Linked DNA regions of Homo sapiens. The protein of the gene in region 1 interacts with the protein of each later gene in a biochemical or structural test. Each region holds a gene or a part of one and is shown in the gene's direction. Other genes may lie near its edges.

Region 1 (3,818 bases):
ATTTATTTCATGATGTGATTCATTGCCTTACAGGGTAGTCCATTTCTGTGTTGAATAACTTCTGTTAGAAAATGTTGCTTTGTACAGTACATTTCACTGTAGTTTTCACCCTCCCCACCCTTCTTACATTTTTTCCTCTTTGCTTACCTTTTTCAGCATTACTCTATCTTCAGGTTAATCTCTTCTCTGATTAATTCTTCATTTGTCTTTCTGGCTTTTCTTGAACTCACTCACTTAAATATTAGTATCTAAAGCTTATCTCATTATACATACTCTGTTTGCCCTCAGTTGCCACCTGTAAGCTAAGGACTCTCTTAGTCCACACTTTCTCACTTGCCACTCGGTACCTTCACTAAATAGGATCTTAGGTTACTGAAGTCCGAAGTTAAACTCTGTGTCATTTTCCCTCGTGCTTCCTTCATCCCCATTCTCTAAACATGAACAAACCAGTTCCTGGCCCCTGTGTCTCATGTTGTTGGAAGGATTGCATGGATTTGTCTTCTTGTGTTGCCTGTCTTGGTCATCACTGTTCATCCACTTGCCCAAGCTGAGATCAAGAAGACCTCCTCTTCCCATTGCCATAGCGGATAGTTCTTTTTGCTTTTTACCTCTCAGCTGTTTCTTGACTCTGAATCGGTATCTTTTCATCTTCATCCCCACCTGGACTAACAGTAGTGGCTCCATAATTAATCTCTTTGTCTGTACTGTTACCCTCTAGAAGTCTGTCCTGCTAGAATGAGCTTCCTGAAATATTTTCCTGAGCATGCCACTCTCCTACTTAAAATCTGTTACTAGTGTTCTGTAGCTTGGGTGTTAGAACTCTTTGGCATGGAGATTGTGAGGCCCTTTGTATTCTTTACCTCTGTTCTCCCAAACCCAATAAAGCCTCATCTCTTGTCACCCCTAACATGCACCTTGCATTCCACCACTCCAGATTAACGACACAGCTTCAGATCTCCGTGCCTTTGCACATGCTGTTCTTTCTGTTAAGTCACTTCTCACCTTGTCCACTTCTGAAACTCCTTATCTAGTCAATGAATTTTTCTCTACCAGCTTTCTCTTCCAAAGAGAGTTATGGTCACTATTCTGTGTTCCCATAGCTTCCTGAGTACTTTTCATCTTCTGTTACTTATTTTCTTGTCTTTTCTGCTAGTCTCAACCTCTGAAGGGGTTGGCCGGGTTGTCTTATTCACCTTTGTTTCCCTAGTGTAGCACTAACATGTAGCATAGAGAAGATAACCAGTAAATGTTTGTTGACTGAATGTTGAATTGCCTTTGTTTTTAACCCGTAGGGCCATACAGCACAAATCTGATTCCTTTATATGATGGCCCTTCATGTGTCTAATCACATTTCCTGTGTGCATGTGTGTGTGGGCCCCCCCTGCCCTTCCCCTCAAACCTTATCCTTTTTAAGTTAACCATCCTTAATTCCTTCAGCCACTCTTCACATTACTTAGTTTCCAGATCTTTTGTGATCTTGGTCATCCTCCTGGATATGCTGTAGTTTTAGCGTTTTTTTAGTTTTGTCATCTTTGGAAAGATCTTTGATCTTACTGAGTCATCTAAAAGAAAAGACTGATGGCGTTGCTCTGCCTGTCTGTTAGAATGAGGCACAAAAGAGATCATAGAATTCTGGGATGAATGCTCAAAGAAGATAAGAAATATGACTGATTTTCATAAACTGTATGAAAATTAATACATGATGTGAGATAGTGAAAAGACATACATGAAGGCAGAGGATATGGGGTATGACTTGTGGTTCTGCAACTTCACATACATCTGTAAGTTGGGGGATATAGGCAGGCAAGAATAATACCTTACCTACCTAACTGGATTGTCAGAAAAATAAAATGTAAAATTGTTCATAAACTATAAAGTACTGTACCTATGTAGAATGGCTTCAGTGTTTCTTTGTGAACTCTAAAAATATACTATATTAAATTATTTGAAAGTGTAGACTTTTTTTTCTTTTGGCTTAATTGATCATTGCTGGTTTCTTCCTTATGAGTTTTTCTCTACCTCAATGAAAATATTGGGGTAACCTTAATAAATCTCATTATATGGAGGCTGTATTTAATAGTCTTTTTTCCAAACACTTTATTTTATTAGTGACTTCCATGTGATTGGGAGCTATTTACCATATCATTGGTAAGTGTTTAGGTTTCTGGGTAAAATTGCATCAATAATTGGAGAACAGTCAGAGGAAATGACTGTAGGTAAGATCATATTGACCGGAGAGCTAAGTGAAGTGAGGAGAAGTTTTGTGTTTACGATTTTGAAAAATTAACTTTGTCATGGACATAGCTAGTGAAAGATGATTTTAAAATAGAGCTCAAATTTTGGATTCATTTAGAATGAAGAGAGTTTTTTTGATTCAAAAATTTTGTAAATAGTGACAAAAAAAGGCATTCAGACCCACTGGTATGATTTTGGTATATTTCTTTCTACTTACTGCCTATATGGCACATTATCTTTTTACATTGTAATCATGGTGTATGTATAACTTGAAATGTTTTCCTTTGACATTATACCATTTTTCTTTGTTGTCACATTATCTTTAAATCATTTTATTTTAAAAACTTATTTAAAAATACATAAATATATGTTTGTTTGCAGTCAAACAATATAAAAATACATAGAATAAAAGATTTTATCACTTCTACCCACAAATTCCATTTTTGAAACCCATAAGTAACCCCTTTTAATATCTTCCCTTGCATGTGCATATGTGTGTATGGTTTTATTTTTTTACAGATAAGCAGGATCATACTACCTATTGTTTTTTCAACTTGCTTTTTCACTTAGTATGTTGGAGATCGTTCCATGCCAGTACATACAGATTTTCCTATAACCATTATTTAAAATGTGTGTGTAATATTCCAGGGAGCAAATATAATAATAGTGGCTAATTAAAGTAGTAGTTACAGAACACTCCCTGACTTCCAGGCATTGTGCCATGCTCTTTCACATGTATTTAATCTTTTATACAGTCCTGTGAGGAAGATGACAATTTCTTCACATTCCACAGATGAGGAAACTGAGTCTCAGATATTAAGTGCCTTGCCGAAGGTCTCACAACCTTTCATGTGCAAGAGTTGGCATTGGAATCCAGGTTTTTGCAACTTCAAAGCCTATGTTCTTTATTCCTCTGCATTCTGCTGCTAATTGTGTATTCTCCTGTTATGGATATGGAAGTTGTTTTTACTGTTTTGCTGTGATAAAGAATGCTGTGATGAACATATTCTTTCTATATTTTGGATTCCCCCATATAGGATTGCTGGTGAAAAGTTAACTTGTGTGTGTATGTGGGGGTCAGGGTTCCATTTATTGCAGAAAAGTAATGATGTCATTAAGAATAATTCCATTGACTAATACTTTCATAACTTTTTGAAGGTTTTACCACTTTTAATTGTGAACTTTGGGTACTTAAGGCCATGTTTTAAAATGCAAGTTCATCTGTTAACTGAAAGGTTAAGCTAATTAATAAGTAATTTCAAAGGTCCCTTCTGCCTTCCAGGTTTCTCTTACTCTGAAGTCCATAAAATGGAACAGTGGGTTTATTTCAGCTTAATAACTTCTATTCAGTTATTGTGTTCCAACACTGGTCATTTCTGGTTTTCAGATGCAAAAGTCACCTTTTTTTCATTCGCTAAAGCTCAGGTTATTGTATATCTTTTTTTTGTAGTGCAAAGTAGGATATGATTGGAAAATCGTCTATGTTACTTGCAAATGATTGTATATGATTTTATTTTATATGTGTAAAAATAGCTTTAGGGCTGAGTTATATGGCTTCAGTGTTAAGTAATTGTGAGGTATTT
Region 2 (4,320 bases), on another chromosome or scaffold:
AGAGAACCCTAATACAGTGACCGTATTTGGAATCGGTCCTTCTGTTAATTTCACTTGGCAAGTACTAAAAGATGATGATCTCAGATATACCTATGGCTGCAAAAACATGACATGGCTAAATCCCTTGGTTGCAGTATCTCTTTTCTTTTTTAAGGGGGGTGGGGGGGCGGGTCTCACTGTTGCCCAGGCTGGAGTGCAATGGCGTTATCATAGCTCACTGCAGCCTCAAACTCCTGCGCTCAAGTGACCCTCCTGCCTCAGCTCCCAAAGTGCTGAGATTTTGCAATATTTATGGTCACAAGATTATGTTATTCCATAAAAGTATCTTTCTGAGGCTAGGCATGTTGGTTCACACTTGTAATCCCAGCACTCTGAGAGGCTGAGATGGAAGGATTCATTGAGGCAAGGAGTTCAAGACCAGCCTGGTCAACATAGTGAGACCTCATCTCGGAAGGAAGGAAGGAAGGAGGGAGGGAGGGAGGGAGGGAGTGAAGGAAGGAAGGAAGGAAGGAAGGAAGGAAGGAAGGAAGGAAGGAAAAGTATATTTTTGAATCTTTTTCTATTTCTCCAACTCTTTCTTTAGAAGAATTCTATTTCCATTCTTTCTTCACCTCTTTGCCTTTGTTAGCCTTCTCTCCAAGCAAATCGGGAGCCTTTATTTTTTGTGTATTCATGAGGGAGAGGAAGATGAATTGCTGTACAAACTAAAGTAATGAAAATGGAGTAGGTAGGAGGATAGACAGCTGCAAGGATCTGAGCTGGATAGACTGAACAAACCCTCATCCTAAGCAACTCACAGCTCAGATTTCTTCTCTGGACAGCTGGCTTTTTTCGTCCTTCTGAAATACTCTGCAAAGATAGGAGAGGGGCTATGAACTACCTCTGCTATGGATCTTATTCAAAGTCAGCTACCTCCTAGATACTATCTGTAGAACCTAAATGTAATATTCAGCATAGCAGGGATGAACATGGTAAATGAAAGGTATCCAATTGCCCACTGTAATTTTTAAAGGCCAGGAGCTCAACATTATTGAAAATGCTGGAGGGCTGCCTGGAGTAGGCAGTGACCACAGAGTCACACAAGCTGGAATTGGATATCCAACTTGTCTGTCATATTTCTCTCCTCCCTCCCTGACTTGGCACTCAATACTCCATATTCTTTCTAATCCTCTAACCCTCCCCACTCCCCCAACTCCCACACCCTACCCCCACCAACGTTCCTGGAATTTTGGACTTAGCTATTTTTAAAACCGTCAACTCAGTAGCCACCTCCCTCCCTGCTCAGCTGTCCAGTACTCTGGCCAGCCATATACTCCCCCTTCCCCCCATACCAAACCTTCTCTGGTTCCCTGACCTCAGTGAGACAGCAGCCGGCCTGGGGACCTGGGGGAGACACGGAGGACCCCCTGGCTGGAGCTGACCCACAGAGTAGGGAATCATGGCTGGAGAATTGGATAGCAGAGTAATGTTTGACCTCTGGAAACAGTAAGTCAAAATGAAATTGCAATTCCTTTAATAAGCTTTTATATTGAAGTTAGACTTTTATAAAATTACAAACACCTACTTGGATGTCTCTCGTCCAAATGCTGGGATCTCTCCCTACCAAGGTGCCCCAATCTCCATTTCTCTTTCTGTCTTATTTCTTTCTGGCCTCTGGCCTCTAGCTTTTTGAAGTTTAATTCTCTGTCTCTCCTCTGGCAGTCTTAGCCCTCTCTTTACCTTATTACCTCAAGACTCCTGATGAAGTTTTAGAAGGAGTTCCCTACGTCCTCTATTCTGTAGTTTTCTTACCAAGGCCAAATATGACCTCAGATGATGAGTCACTGATACCCTTCTATCCTGCCCCCACTTAGCAATGCCCTTCACATTGAGATTCCAAGCATGGGGGCTGCTCCCTGTAAATGATTTCTCCCCACAACTCTAGTCCCTCCATTCTATTCTCCCTCTTGCAGGACTCTTCCCCCAATCATATCCTTACCCATAAGATAGGGGAGTTAGGCAGGAGGGATTTAGCCCCTCTCCAACTCCTGTCATCATAAAAGACTGAGAACTTCAGAATTTGAAAAGAAGAGATTAATGGAAGGAGTGATATTTGGGAAAATACAAGAACTGTTGACTTAGAAAAAACAAATATTGATTTGCATGTTTGGTTTGCATCCCATTATTCCATGAGAGAGGGAGATTAAAATTGCAGCTCTCTAGAGCTGATGAAAAGAGATTGGTTTCCTTTTCATTTGAATACTGATATTCTAGACGGGATGGGTATGCCACCCTTAATCCTTCTTGTGTTCTGACACAAAGGAGGAAAAGAAATGTATGACTCCTAGAGGGCATCTCCTCCTAATGGAGAGGGACAAATAAGAAGTATGTTTCTGAAATATTTTCAGGTCCTAATTTTACTAGGGTACCCACTAGGATTACTGGTATCTGATCTAGCCCCATGATTCCTCCATCTTTGACATACCTGCTGTTTGGTAGCTCAGAATGGAGCAATACAGTGGACTCTGCCCCCTTGAGTTCACTCAACCTTCCCTCCACCCCCACCTAGGGGTATTGCACAAGGGCCCTAAAAGTGGCCACAGGAACAGGGCAAAGAGGCTTAACTGCCACACTTATAGTTTGAGGAACTCCAATCTCCCCAAATTCCAGTCTGTTCATCCTTTTCTTGATCTCCCCAGATTCACTCCACATTATCCTTACCAATCTTCAATTCTTCTCTCTCTCCATGTCCAGCCAAATTTCTTTTTTCAGTCACTTACAGGGCTTCCGGTCAAAATTCACTAGGTAGGAGGGTCATCAGCTGGGAAGAACCGGCGCCTGGGAAACCTGGCTGGATAGGTATGGGGGAGCCAGGCCAGTCCCCTAGTCCCAGGTCCTCCCATGGCAGTCCCCCAACTCTAAGCACTCTCACTCTCCTGCTGCTCCTCTGTGGACATGGTAAGGAAGGGCCAGGGAAGGGTTTGGGGAAATCTAGAGGGTAGGCTGCTATGTAGGGGTGGGCATGTGAGCCTGAATGAGTGAGGAGAGATAGGCGCTGAGAGTCCCGATCACTCGCCCTGCTCTCAAATACTAATATTTTATTTCCCGTTCAGTCTGGGGAAGGCCACTGGGGAAGCCCTTGGTCGACAGGCAGAAGAGATGTGGCAGGCTTACACACTTTTAGTAAGACAGCCGAGAGAACTAGGGACTAGGGGGTTGGGGGCTGGGGAAGGCCCTTAGTTAGGTTTTAGGAAGGCTGGAAACCCCTGATGAGATTTGGAAGAGTTATGAGCAAACTACACTCCGATAGAGCAGAGGTCTGAGGACCGTCTCACAATCCTCTCCCTTCTGTCTTTAGCTCATTCTCAATGCAAGATCCTCCGCTGCAATGCTGAGTACGTATCGTCCACTCTGAGCCTTAGAGGTGGGGGTTCATCAGGAGCACTTCGAGGAGGAGGAGGAGGAGGCCGGGGTGGAGGGGTGGGCTCTGGCGGCCTCTGTCGAGCCCTCCGCTCCTATGCGCTCTGCACTCGGCGCACCGCCCGCACCTGCCGCGGGGACCTCGCCTTCCATTCGGCGGTACATGGCATCGAAGACCTGATGATCCAGCACAACTGCTCCCGCCAGGGCCCTACAGCCCCTCCCCCGCCCCGGGGCCCCGCCCTTCCAGGCGCGGGCTCCGGCCTCCCTGCCCCGGACCCTTGTGACTATGAAGGCCGGTTTTCCCGGCTGCATGGTCGTCCCCCGGGGTTCTTGCATTGCGCTTCCTTCGGGGACCCCCATGTGCGCAGCTTCCACCATCACTTTCACACATGCCGTGTCCAAGGAGCTTGGCCTCTACTGGATAATGACTTCCTCTTTGTCCAAGCCACCAGCTCCCCCATGGCGTTGGGGGCCAACGCTACCGCCACCCGGAAGGTCAGGCACTCAATCTTCCTTCCGATCCACCTCATGAGATTCTTCCACGGGCACCATTCCTCCCCATCCCCACTATTCAACAGCAATGCTCCCTAATTCCCTTTTCTTCCTCAACCTCTCCCCCATCTCGAATCACTCCCTTCTACCAAACACCTGGAGCTGTAAATCACTTCCCCTTGATGGGAATTTGACTCAAATGCAGAAAACCTTGAAGAGACAGTCGGAGAGGGCGGACCTGAGGAGTTTCAGAAGGGAAACTTTTCCCTCTCCTAGGAAGTTGCCACGATTAAGTAGAGAGGGGGTTAAGTAGGGATGAGGTAATACTGGAACATAAATAGGAGAAGGGATCAAGGATTGAGGGCCATAGTAGTCCTGCATCTCTACTTGGATCAGATCTCTAACTATGTATGAGGTCTGATTGGG

What was found.
Region 2: the proteins of NEO1 (region 1) and HJV form a complex in vitro, tested with the Homo sapiens proteins (one study listed by IntAct).

Annotation. Positions count from the first base shown.
Region 1 is NC_000015.10:73,055,288-73,059,105, forward strand, and holds part of NEO1 (neogenin isoform 1 precursor), read left to right. Parts: intron 1-3,818. UniProt on the Homo sapiens protein: Multi-functional cell surface receptor regulating cell adhesion in many diverse developmental processes, including neural tube and mammary gland formation, myogenesis and angiogenesis.
Region 2 is NC_000001.11:146,018,752-146,023,071, reverse strand, and holds the start of HJV (hemojuvelin isoform a precursor), read left to right. Parts: upstream 1-1,336; 5' UTR 1,337-1,485; intron 1,486-2,733; exon of another isoform or gene 2,734-2,751; 5' UTR 2,752-2,840; coding exon 2,841-2,937; intron 2,938-3,337; coding exon 3,338-3,897; intron 3,898-4,320. UniProt on the Homo sapiens protein: Acts as a bone morphogenetic protein (BMP) coreceptor. Through enhancement of BMP signaling regulates hepcidin (HAMP) expression and regulates iron homeostasis.